4 linked regions of the Homo sapiens genome follow. The protein of the gene in region 1 interacts with the protein of each later gene in a biochemical or structural test. Each region holds a gene or a part of one and is shown in the gene's direction. Other genes may lie near its edges.

The links. Proteins that work in one complex are often made in the same cells at the same time.
Region 2: the proteins of DLG1 (region 1) and IQSEC2 interact in a test that uses a peptide from one of them, tested with the Homo sapiens proteins (2 studies listed by IntAct, with this or other methods).
Region 3: the proteins of DLG1 (region 1) and TANC1 interact in a test that uses a peptide from one of them, tested with the Homo sapiens proteins (2 studies listed by IntAct, with this or other methods).
Region 4: the proteins of DLG1 (region 1) and CTNND2 interact in a test that uses a peptide from one of them, tested with the Homo sapiens proteins (2 studies listed by IntAct, with this or other methods).

Annotation. Positions count from the first base shown.
Region 1 is NC_000003.12:197,064,613-197,068,112, reverse strand, and holds part of DLG1 (disks large homolog 1), read left to right. Parts: intron 1-1,358; coding exon 1,359-1,409; intron 1,410-2,303; coding exon 2,304-2,405; intron 2,406-2,648; coding exon of another isoform or gene 2,649-2,662; exon of another isoform or gene 2,663-2,664; coding exon 2,665-2,837; intron 2,838-3,500. UniProt on the Homo sapiens protein: Essential multidomain scaffolding protein required for normal development. Recruits channels, receptors and signaling molecules to discrete plasma membrane domains in polarized cells.
Region 2 is NC_000023.11:53,314,851-53,318,350, reverse strand, and holds part of IQSEC2 (IQ motif and SEC7 domain-containing protein 2), read left to right. Parts: intron 1-3,500. UniProt on the Homo sapiens protein: Is a guanine nucleotide exchange factor for the ARF GTP-binding proteins.
Region 3 is NC_000002.12:159,230,640-159,233,159, forward strand, and holds the end of TANC1 (protein TANC1), read left to right. Parts: coding exon 1-373; 3' UTR 374-2,020; downstream 2,021-2,520. UniProt on the Homo sapiens protein: May be a scaffold component in the postsynaptic density.
Region 4 is NC_000005.10:11,894,447-11,897,946, reverse strand, and holds part of CTNND2 (catenin delta-2), read left to right. Parts: intron 1-3,500. UniProt on the Homo sapiens protein: Has a critical role in neuronal development, particularly in the formation and/or maintenance of dendritic spines and synapses. Involved in the regulation of Wnt signaling.

The DNA of each region.
Region 1 (3,500 bases):
CTAAAACAGAAAAGAATGTTTATGCCAATGTATGGATTTAAAAGACCTACAGCTACATACATATAATATAAACCAATTGCAAAATTCATGGTAAAATTGTTATAGGATCTTGATAATTAAAGAGAAAGTCTTCAAATACATTATCCAATATTGATTGCTTTCATTGAACCACTTGGGTTAACACAGTCTTTTCTAATTTTAGGCGTGGGGGTGAGGGGGGATGTGTGTGTGTTAGTTTAAAACTCCTAGAGTTTTTGGCCGGGCGCGGCGGCTCACGCCTGTAATCCCAGCACTTTGGGAGGCCGAGGCGGGCAGATCACCTGAGGTCAGGAGTTCGAGACCAGCCTGACCAACGTGGAGAAACCCTATCTTTACTAAAAATACAAAATTAGCTGGGCATGATGGCACATGCCTGTAATCCCAGCTACTTGGGAGGCTGAGGCAGGAGAACCGCTTGAACCCGGGAGTTGGAGGCTGCAGTGAGCTGAGATCATGCCATTGCACTCCAGACTAGGCAACAAGAGCGAAACTCCGTCTCAAAAAAAAAAAAAAAAAAAAAAACTCTCAGAGTTTTTAACTATTTATTTCTTTTCACTGGATTCAGATATTCAGATATAATTTGTAGACTCTTTTATTTAGAGTATTTCCTAAGCTCCGAACCTTTAATTTAACCTTTAGAAGCTTTAACTTCTTGTGTTTTTAAGGTCAAAGCAAATATATTTATCTCCTTTACTATCACTGTTGTTTATTTTCTTGGAAGGATTTAGTTTTATCTAAAGCTCTTTTTGACTCACATTAAATTTATTATTTTTTTACAAAGTTGAGTTAGTGAATTTTTCATCAGTGAAATAGTAACAGTAGTTTTACCTTTGCATTTATAATTTTTAATTTTAAGATGTAATTATTTTAAAAATAAAATATACTGTATTCAGTATTGTAGTTGGTGGAACAAAAAAAGTAGCATGTTTTTAATAGTAACAAATTACCTAATACGTAGATAGATGATAGACAGATCTGCTCATTAAAGCATTAATCTTTAACAGATTTAATAATTCTTAGATTCTAAATAAAGGAGTAGCACATAGCATCACAAATGAAGATTTTTAGATTTGATTATCTATAAAATATAATATTGATTATATAGCCCATTTGTATTTTGTTTTACATTTAGCAAACTCACTTTTAAGACTTTATAATTTGACACTTTTTTTTAACTAAATCTTGCCATAAAGTACCTCTTTCCATATCTTTGCCATTTTCTCAGGAAAGTTCTAGTAATGTATATGTTGTTTATGAAGAATTAGATTAGCATCAATTATCTTTACACATTTTTCATCTGTGCCTTCACTTTCTAATAGGTGGTCAAGAAGAATACGTCTTATCTTATGAACCAGTGAATCAACAAGAAGGTTTGTGAAGCCTATTGATGTTTTATAACCTTCTAGAAGAATATACTTTTTAATTTGGGGGAAAAAAATTCTCATACCCCAAAAAATGTTGTATTAAAATTTTTTTTTACTACATATACATGTAGAAATTTACTACATGTGTTTTATGAAACATAGTTTACTCCACAGAATATTAGAATCTAGTCATTTCATACTGACTTTTATATTTGTGTTTTATTTCCCAAGCAACTTTGTTCCAGTGTTCTTGTTAGCATCACTATCTTCCAAATAACCCTTTTTTGAAAATCTTGGAAGTATCTTTGAGCCTTCTCTGTTCCTCCTCCTCCTCCTCATCCAGTTAGGTTCCAGGCACTGTTTATCCCACTTCTTTCTTATTTATGACCTTCTTTTCATCCCTTCTATCACAATGTTAGTTCTCAGTCTCACTACCAATCTCCATTATTCCAGCATGATCCCAGACCACCCAGAGTTTACACTTCTGTTAGATCATCTTTCTAGAATGCTACTACTGGGATTATATCACTTCCTACATCCAGTTTCTGTTCTGCCCTTCTTTGCTCTGCTTCCTTACAATTTCTACTTCAAAGCCATCTGTAAAACACTAGACTTTATTCTGTCATTTGCAATGTAAAGAAACATTATCTGCGAAAACACCAAATTTAACTTGATTGAATTATCAATATGACTTCTAGCAGAAGACTAAGTAAAGTTTAAGATCTGAGTCAAGATTATAAAAGAGCAAGTTACGCATCTTTGGTTGATGGTAGAGTGAGATGGAGAGGGAAGAAAAAAATTAGTCATAACAGTTAAGGATATTTTTGTTCGCTGGTGAAATAAAATACATTGATATTTGTTGAATGTTTATTCCTTTTAACATGCAGTTTATCTTTATAGTTAATTATACTCGACCAGTGATCATATTGGGACCTATGAAAGACAGGATAAATGATGACTTGATCTCAGAATTTCCTGACAAATTTGGATCCTGTGTTCCTCGTAAGTAAACCAAACAAAAACATTTAATTGTTACTCTTAACATTTCCTGTCACTGTGTGTGGGAAAAATAGATATAACCATTTTTTAATGGTTTGTACTTATTTTATCAGTTACTCTTCCATCCTCCATATTATTGTCCTTTCTCAGATTTAAATTAATCTGTTCTGTTGAACTTTACAAAACGATGTAAGTAGAAAATGGATTTATTGTGGTTTTTTTTTTAATATTAAACACTTTCCCAAGTTTTTTTCTGTTAAAGATACAACTAGACCAAAACGAGATTATGAGGTAGATGGAAGAGATTATCATTTTGTGACTTCAAGAGAGCAGATGGAAAAAGATATCCAGGAACATAAATTCATTGAAGCTGGCCAGTATAACAATCATCTATATGGAACAAGTGTTCAGTCTGTACGAGAAGTAGCAGAAAAGGTAAGCATCAGACTAATCCCAGAATATAGCTTCTAATCAGATATGCCTTTGACAGTATGCAAGACTGGTAGGATAGATACAGCACTAATTAGTTTTGTTAATGTGATGAATTTGCTTACCTAAATAATTAATTTTCCATGGCTTAGGAAAGTGCATACAAGATAAAACAGGTAAATAAGGTAAACAAAGAAAGTGAAAATAGAAATGATAACATGAATGTAAGAGAAGTTATTTTCAGGTCATTTGCTAGAGATAGACCTTTTGTTTAGGCCTAGCTCTCCAGCATATATTAAAAGGAGATAAGGGCCGGGTGTGGCAGTGCACCCTTACAGTCCTAGCTACTGAGAAGGCTGAGTTGAGAGAATCACTGAAGCCTGGGAGTTTGAGGCTGCAGTGAGCTATGAGCATGCCACTGAACTCCAGCCTGGGCAACAGAACAAGACCCTGGCTCTTAAAAAAAGAAAAAAAAAGAAAGATCAATAAATCTAACCACTTAAAATTTTTAAAAAACTTTTTTTATGGCCAAAGACTTTTTCCAAAAACTATTGGAAAACACCATTAACAATGTCAAAAGACAACTGACAGAAAAAATTTGCAAGAAAAGGGCTAATATTCCCAATATATAAAGAACTCATAAAAACAGGGAACAGAGACCAGAAACCC
Region 2 (3,500 bases), on another chromosome or scaffold:
GCGTTTCCTTGCTTTGCATTTCCTACTGGATTAATAAAGGGGTTTAGGTAGTACTTTAAGTTTCTCTCCTGACCATATATTAACTATTTGCACACCCATTATTACCTCTTTTTGACTTCACAACAAGCCTTCTGCAGTGAGTGTTGGCAACTGCATTTTAGAGATGGGGAAACTGAGGCTCCAAGATGAAGGGACCTCACTCAAGGTTACCCTACTAGTTGCTAATGGAGCTGGGACTAGAACCCAAGTCTTCCTGTCTCCAAGGCCTGGTATTTTTTTCTCTAGAGCTCTCCAACCCACAGGAGTCTCTTAGCCTCAGGACCTGGCCTGGCACTGAGCTAGGAGAGGCCAGGAGAGCCTTAGGTCTCTAGAGGATTTGAGCAGGAGGAGATGAGTCTGGGATGAGTGGGGAGTTGACAGCGGCAGGGAAGAAGGCTCTGTCTCCCTCCTTTCCACTCTCCCTCCTGGCCTGGCATCAGGAGGGCCTGTTGATGCAGTAGCCATTGCTGTCACTGCTGCTGCTGCAAGCGACTCCCCTGCTAGGTCTGTTCTGGGTTTGTAAGGAGTGGGTGAGAAGCCGCTGGAAGCGAGGGCAGGCAGGGTGGGAGTTTAGCAGCAGAGGCTGCAGCATTGGGGGAGGCTAGGTAGAGCGGGTACAGGCTGGGCTCTCTTGGTCCCCAGGCTCCCCCTGGTGGAGGAAGAGGGGAGAGTGGTGCCTGGGCCGAGCTGCAGCTTGTTGGGGGGGCCCCGCTGTGCCTAGGGACTTTCTTTAGTCCTCCCAATGATCCCGTGCTTCTGTCACCACGATCCACATTTTACAGCAGAAGAAACTGGGGGATCAGAGAAGTGAAGCCCACCAGAGCTTACATTACTCATAAGACAGACTCCCAATCCTGTGAACTTTCCCTCTACTGCATTGGACATCAGCTGTCATGTCCACCCCCATCCATGTCATCCACCCAGGATTCCCATATCCTCCTGCACCGTCCCCTCTGGACAGGTTCCAGGATGCCAGTATCCCTTCTGCTGTGCTCAGGGTGTGGCCTTTCTAGTGCAGATAGAGTGAGATGCGTCCCTGTCTCCTTTTGGTCCTGGGTCCTCTGTACGCGAAGGTTTTGTTTGCTTGCTTTTTAGTCGTTGGTCCTGACTAATGCTCAGGTCTTTTTACCTGGAATTGTCCACATACCCCCCCAAGCCTGGTTGATTAGAGAATAGCTCTGCTTTTGTTGTTGATCTTGGCTTGGCCCCCTTGCAGTCCTGCCACCTAGAGTGATATATAGGAGTGCTAGGGGCCCCTGCTGAGTTGCTCCACGCTGAAGAGCTGCGTTTCCCACGCTCTTTGCATGGGCCCAGCTCCGGCTCTGCTGTAGGCGGTGGTGGGCTGAAGCTGGTATGGTGGCAACTCTCCTTCCTTTACCCCCACCCCCATCCACCCTGCAAGCTGGCTTACACTTGGAGATAGCAACTAGAGGGGCTGGCCTGGTGGTGTTTTTTTTCTTTTTCTTTTTTTTTTTTTTTTGGTTTTGGTTTGTTTTTGGGACAGGGGTCTTGCTCTGCTGCTCAGGCTGGAGTGCAGTGTTGCGAACATAGCTTACTCAAGTGAGTTCAGGAGTTTGAGGCTGCAGTGAGCAATAATTGCAAAAAAGGAACACCAGGCTGGCCCTTCTAGTTGCTATCCGCCCAATTCTTTTAAGCAGAGACGGGGTCTCTCTGTGTTGCCCAGACTGGTCTCAAACTCCTGGGCTCAAGCGGTCCTCCCTCCTTGGCGTCCCAAAGTGCTGAGCCACCACGCCCGGCCCAACGTGGTATTCTTGACAGCTAGGGCAGTGTATGGTCTACCACATGCTGTCGTCTGCTTGCAGTGGGATGTCAGCATGCTCCCCGCAGGGGCTAAGGCCACTGAGAGACAGCACGTGAGACAGTGAGCCCAGGGAGAGGCTCAGGGAAGTCTCTCCTTTGGGGTCTTGGGTACTTTTCCCAGGGGGTGTCTCTCCTTCCCAGGAGGGAAAACCATTTATCTTCCCTCCCACTGTGTTGTGAGCATTATCTTCGTGTGGGAGGAAATGGTAATGTTGAATTTAATGAGAATGAGAGTCTTGCTTCTCTATCTAGATCTGGGGCAAGAATGGGGTTGTTATCATCTACAAACATTTCTTGGCTGTGTGCACAGCGCAGGAGGGGCCACGAGGCTGAGCAAACACTGCACTCTTAGCGCTTGCAGAACCCCTGCTCCCCTCCATCCAGGGAGACAGGGTTGCAGGCCTAGCCATGCCATAGAGGCAACACTCAGGACAAAATGAGTGGCAAGAATGGTGAGGAGTGGAAGTTCTCAGAGGAAGGAGGGATCAGGCCAGGCCAGGCTGCTGTTTGAGTACCTGGGCGGTGGGTGAGGGATGAGGGGTATGGAAGGAATGTGAGTGGTCCCTTCATGGAGGTGGCAGCTGGGAGGAAGACGTCAGACCAGACTTGCTGCCTGCCCTTTCCTCATCTGTCCCACCCCTGCCTACCAAGGTCTCTGAATTTGCTGGGCGCAGAGTAAAGGCCTGGAGCATGGGGAAGAGGCCACACGTGTACCGAGTGAGTCTCAGCCTTCTGCCAGGCCCCACGCTATGTGACTTTATGTAATAATAGCTAACATTTTTTCACTGCTCTTACTGTGTGCTAAGCACTATTTGTTCTAAGCGCTTTCCATGTATTAATTCATTCAATCTCCACATGAATCCTCTCGTGTAGATATTGTTATTAACTCCATTTTACAGATGAGGAAACTGAGGCCCAGAAAGGTTGGATAGCATACCCAGGATCACTCAATGAATAAGTGGCAGAACTGTGAAGGAGCTGGAGGAGCCCAGGGAGTTGGGCTTCAGGGTCCGCAGTGTTCTAACCCACCCTGGAGCACTACTTCTTACCTCATTTGCACAGAGCCCCTGTCAGATGGGTGTGTTCGTTTGTTTGTTTGTTTTATGAGTTTCACTCTTGTTGCCCAGACTGAAGTGCAATGGCACACTCTTGACTCACTGCAACCTCCACCTCCTGGGCTCAAGCAATTCTCATGCCTCAGCTTCCCGAGTAGCTGGGATTACAAACACGTGCCACCACCCCCGACTAATTTTTGTATTTTTAGTAGAGACGGGGTTTCACCATGTTGGTCAGGCTGGTCTCGAACTCCTGACCTCAGGTGATCCGCCCACCTCTGCCTCCCAAAGTGCTGGGATTACAGGCATGAGCCACTGCGCCCAGCCTATTATCTTCATTTTTTCAGACAAGGAAACAAGGATCAGAGAGGTACAGTGACCTGCCCGAGGTTATTCAGGCAGATGGAGCCCAGAACTGTCTGGCTTCCAAACCTATGGTACACCGCTGCCTCCCGCAGGTGGGCTTTAAAGACATCAGAGCTACTCCAGGTATGTGGCTCTAGCTTCCTCCAACAGAGCTCCCAGGACCCCTGCTCTAGGCAGGCTCCCTCTCACCATCACCCCCTGAATTTTGGCCATGGTCTC
Region 3 (2,520 bases), on another chromosome or scaffold:
TCCTCCAAGCCGCAGCTGGCACTGTCCGGCACCAGAGGGGCTGCTGACAAACACGTCTTCTGCAGCTGGCCTGCAGTCTGCTAACACTGAGAAGCCCTCTCTCATGCAAGTGGGAGGATATAATAACCAAGCCAAAACCTGTTCTGTTTCTACCCTGAGTGCAAGTGTCCACAATGGGGCACAAGTGAAGGAGCTAGAAGAAAGCAAGTGCCAAATTCCAGTCCACTCTCAAGAGAACAGGATAACTAAGACTGTTTCTCATCTGTACCAGGAAAGTATCTCCAAACAGCAGCCTCATATTAGTAATGAAGCCCACAGGAGCCACCTCACTGCAGCCAAACCAAAGCGATCATTTATAGAGTCAAATGTGTGAACCTTAAGAAATCCCCATTTGTGGAATTTGGAAACGTGTGTTGACTCCTGGTGGTAAATTAAATAGTTTTTTTCATCAGAAAAATTATTTTTTAGCCATTTTTTTTCTTTGGGGTGGATCTGATGCCATTGATATATCTAAAATGTGGGATAAAACTTCTTTAATAGCTAGAAATCACCATAAATAAGAATGCTAAACAGAATTGAAAATTATATCAACTTAAAATTTTAAGACAGCCCAGAAGACATTAATGACTCTCACTTATGAAATTGTTTGGCTTTTGCCACTTTCTTCCTTGCCTTTGCTATATGGTAGAATCACAGAACTTACTTAGAGAATAAATATGTCTATTGTTCAAGAGTAACAGGTTTAACTCATGACCAAGTGATGTACATCCAAGTGATGTATTCTGGAAACGATGGAATTTTACAGTTACAGTTCCATTGAGTCAAATCCCATTTTATATATACATAAAAATTAAGTTCTGAGTGAGTTCTAGCTAAATATAAGTGCGACTGTAAACGCAGCCAATTTTTTTAAGCAGAATATGAGAACACCTAAGTATTCTCTTCATAGCAGTTCCTATAAAGGGATTAAACACTTATTTCTGTGTTATGGTTCTTATTCATATATTTTTATAGCACTTTTGGAACCTATATTTGTGCTTGAAGGTGTTTTTGATATTTGGAAACAGTATAAGCCATTTGGAGTCATGATTGGTGGTCAAGTGGATTCAAGCTAAAATACTAAGACCAGCATTCTTAGTGGCGCTTATAAATTAGCTCTCACCTGGTTTCCAAACTGCTTTTAACAATGGTAGTGCTCCTGGAACAATCCTTCCAAGCTCCTCTAAGGACAATATTTAATTCAGATACTAAAGGTAAGACTGGTTGTTACTTTTGTTTTGTTGTACAATTAGTACTTTATAGTCACATGTTGTATATATTAAATAGCCCAGTTTTATTCAGACTTGTAAATAGAACTATTTCAATGTAGTTAATCTAAAAACAAAAAAGAAAACCCCAGTCACGATTTGCATGTTCTCTGTAAGCTTCATCCATGCTGGTTATTGCACTGAATGATATATTATTAGGGCATGTTAACAGTATACCAGTAACAGCACTTTATCTCATTTATATGAACACCTTTGAGGTGCTACTTAAGTCCAAGCTCTGATGTATTATTCATTTGTAAAGATAAGGTACAGGAATGAACCTTGGTTTAAAGGTATTTTTATATGAAAATGGTGTGTTATTGGAAGATGTTAAAATGCTAATTTGAGAGAAGTAGGAGTGTATCTGTTTTATATGTTGGGATGTGAAATTTATTTTCTAAAATTGAGGAGAAGGAAGTTATATATTTGCAGAATGTTTTAAAGTGAATTGTTGTAATGAAGTTCCTGTGAACATCATTATGGTTTTGTACAAATAGGAACCTCTGATGTCATTCTTCAACGTTTGTTCCTGTGTGTACAATTGTACTTTGTATGAACAGCTTTATCATTTTTATAGGCTTTCCATGAGTTTTGCTGTAACTACTATGGCTTATTTATTTTCTTTAATATTTGTGAAAGTCTTACTCCTTTGTTAGTTTTGTTTCTGCACAACTACTGTACTTTTCCATATGGAATAAAGACTATTAATAGAATGTGTTTTGCACTAAATGAGTCAATGGATAAGTAGAGAACAGCCTGATGACAGCTATCTCTGTTGCTTTTAATCTTTGTTACCCTAGAGGGAATAGTGAAAAGCATATTTTATATTAACACTACAAAATGCTTATTTAATTTCGTTTTATAATTTCAGAATAAGGGTGACAGCTGCTAGAAATTCCACAATACTCAAGGGCCAAATTTAGTCTTTTTGCCTCAAATAGAAAGAAAGCATGCAGGAAAGCAATATATACTTCCTATCTATCTGTTTCAAGACATCTTGGTGTCTGTTTTTACTGGCAACGGGACATCTTTACTACTGTAATTCTCAAACACTTTGGCAATACACTGAACACTGTTATGACAGTTTGTTCTTTAACACATTTGTATTATCTTTCAGTTAAAAGTATGTCTTTATGCCTACATATTTCAAAGTAATATGAGAGAGAACATTAAACTGTGTTGTATTGTGATAAAATTCTTGGAATCTTAAACA
Region 4 (3,500 bases), on another chromosome or scaffold:
AAGTGAAAAGCTGGAGAGAGGCCAGCAGTGTTACATTAATTAAGTTCCCTTTGCCTGAAAGGAAATATCAGAATAGAGAAGAAGTGTTCCCCATTGGCATGGTTTATGAAGAATTCTAGTTGATAGAATTCTGGATATAGTAGCTTTCACAGTACTTTGCTTGGTAGTTGAGCTCTTTAAATATTTCATGGTATTTTGACACTACATCAAGAGTTATCAAGGTAGCGTCTAATGCCCTGGTTGATTTGTAGCAACTATGGTCCATGAAATTCAGCAGATTTATGTATAGCCAACTTTAAAATAACTTACCCTTGGCGTTCTTCCCCTATTTTTCATGTTATTCTTTAACTGCCAATAATTGGATCGCTTTGTAAGTGGTGAGAATTAGACATAAAAAAGATGATGTTAAAATCTGACTTCCCAAACCATATATAAGTGATCTAGGCTAGCTATTTTCCACAGCTTTTTCTGCCTCAGTATAAATAATTAGATTTTGGTGGCTGTTTGATGTTTTGCAATTAATAGGAGAAATCATGGACACAGTAAAGAAAGAAGATAAACATTGCTTTTCTAAATAGATACGATGTTGTATTTAAGTCTAAGCATGACTACTCAATCTAAAAATGCTCACTTTTTAAAACAAATTTTATCCTCTGTCACATATTTTATTTGGACTTTCAAATATTAGACTAATATAGCAGTCATTACCTTCAACAGTATACAATAATGTAATTTCCAGAAAGAGCAACCTCTTTGGTAGCTCCAAATGTAAAAGAGCCACAGTTCAATCTCTCATCTCTAACACAGTCTTCACTGGTGTGGAGCATTGTTCTTGGGGTCATGGGGAAACCAAATAAGGAAGAAGAATCCTCCAGAAAGACAGACAGGTGTTATATAAAAAGTCTCAGAGATAGTACAAATTGTCTCATTAACCCAGGACATGGAAGGTTGATGCAGGAAGGCTGGGGCTTGTAGCATCTGGATCAGATTATTTGTGTTGCTTAACTCAGGTTGAAAAAGAGTAATGTTAAATTCATAGCAGGTGCATAGATATATTATGGCACCTCTAGCCAAAGAAATATGCAATTATGAATTATAGTTTCAGAGTAGCTAATTATATGAGAACTATTCATAATACTAAAGCTAAGAAGATAATCAAGGCAAATAACTATATTGAATGTGATACCCAGCACACATACCCACTCCCAAATGTGAGAACACTGAGAACACAGTGTTTATGTCAGGGTTTCAAGAGTTTTGTTCTTTATATATTACTTTTCCACTAAATATATCATAGTTTAATATATATATTACATTATGCAGAAGAAAAGCATGCCTTTCCATTCTTGAAAAGAATAGTATATATTTATTTTGGGGTGAAGTTCATTAATTAGCTGAATGCATGACTTAAAGTTAACAAAGGTCATTCATCATGGAATGTAGATTACACAGATTTTGATCAGCCATACTTACATTTTCTCGCCTTTAAATTTGAGATTTGTTTGTTTTCAAAAGTAGTGCATGCTCATTGAAAATTCAAAAATACAGAAATGATTAAAAGAAGTTAAAATTCATGCATGGTTGCAAGCCCCAGAAATGACCATATTTTTAGCAGAGATATCAAGCGATACACATTTTTAAATTTAGAAAACATTGCTCATATTCTGTTTAGTTACCTATTAACATCTCATGTAATTAGTATTTATTTTTAGTGTCTGTTTTCCATACCTTTATATAACATTATTTACTTACATCACTCTGTTATTGGAGATTGATGACATTTTCATTTTTGGTAGTTATATTTAATGCTGTAATTAAGATCCTAATAACTAAATAGTTGTCATCAGGTTATTTACTCTAGATTACTTCCTAGAACTGGATGTTTTCAAGGTTGTTGATATATGTTGTTCATTTGTCTTCCAGGAAGATTATATAATTTATATTTCTCTCAGCAAGGCAGGAGTGTACAAATTTTCCCATGATTTCAACAACACTGGGTGTTGTAATGAGAAAAATAAAACTTCTAATTACATAGGAGAAATATTGTGTTTTTCTCTAATTCATTTGCTTCTCTATTAATATTCCTGAGGTTAAATATTTTCTAATTTGTTGGTGTCTACGTCTAATTTTTTTGTGAATTATCTTTTTATATCTTATACACATTTCTCAATTTATCTATTTTCCTTTTTTAAAATTGATTTATATTGTTTGTCTATAGTAATTATGTCACTCTGTCATGTCTTAACAGTTTATATATCATTTTATTGGTTCCTATTTTGGGAGCATAATTCTAAAGCTTGAAGTTAAACTTACTCACTTGTCCTACAGGAGTTCTTCTTTAAGGAAACATTTTACTGCTTGCTGATTTCGTGTGTCCCAGTAGTAAATACAGCAGTGGAGCAAATGGTTGAGAAAATAGCTTCAAAGTTGTACCCCAACTGACTGAGTTCATATCCCAACTTCATCATTTTCTAAGTGAACGGTTATTTTACTACTAAGTGTCATAACACAGGGGAAACAATAATTCCTGTGTCTTCAGGTTGTTGCGACGGTGAATTAAGAGACCATGGACTTAAAATACATAGCAGAGTATGTGGTATATTCACTATTACAACACACATTAGCTGTTTCTACTGCGAAATAATACAGATGCCAGATGCTTTTCTGTAATTCTGGCGTTTGCTTTTCCCACATGAAGCATAAACGCACCTGCACAGACTCCAGGATCACTGTGTGAAAAGGCAAGGTGTTTGTGGCAGTCCGGGGCTCACAGGTGCAGTGCTTTGTGTGTGGTTCTGGCACTTGACTGTGTGTTCTTCAGGGATGTCTCATTTCTCAAGTTCAAGTTCGTTGGGAAGAGCCAGGACACTGTTTTTAGGCAAACACATGATTTTCTACCTTCTCCCCCTGCTCTCAGGCACACACTCCTTCTCTCTGGTCACATAGGACCATGCTTCTCCCCAGCCCCACCCCATACTGGTAATCTATCTTTTAAAATAATTGATCCACAAATCATAGGATAGTAGTAGGCATGTAACAAACACTTAGTTCATCATTTGGGGCAAAAATGGTTTCTGAACCAAGGTTTCTTTGCTTGCTTTGGGTTGGTTTTGGGTACAGACACTGCAGCACCCTGGAGGGACCACTGCCTTAGGATGCCAAGTTCTGGGATCTAAATCGTGCTTGGCACTTGCCTTCTCTTGTGACTTTGCATCTTTGCCTATTTTGTCATTTGTTCCTTGGGATAAAAACTCACAGGGCTTTGTTGAATGTGCTGTGATAATTTAGGTGAAAATGCTTTGGGAAGCTTAATCATAATAAACATTTAAGTATAAAATATATTCTCTGGAACTTTTGATGCACTTCAAAAATACAGTAATGGTGGGGGGTAAGAGTTAGAGTCAAAAGATTTTCTTGCCTATAAAACTAAATCTCTGAATTTTGTTACTAATGTGTTTATAAAATGCCCACTTCCATAGTGGTTGTAAAGATATTGCTAC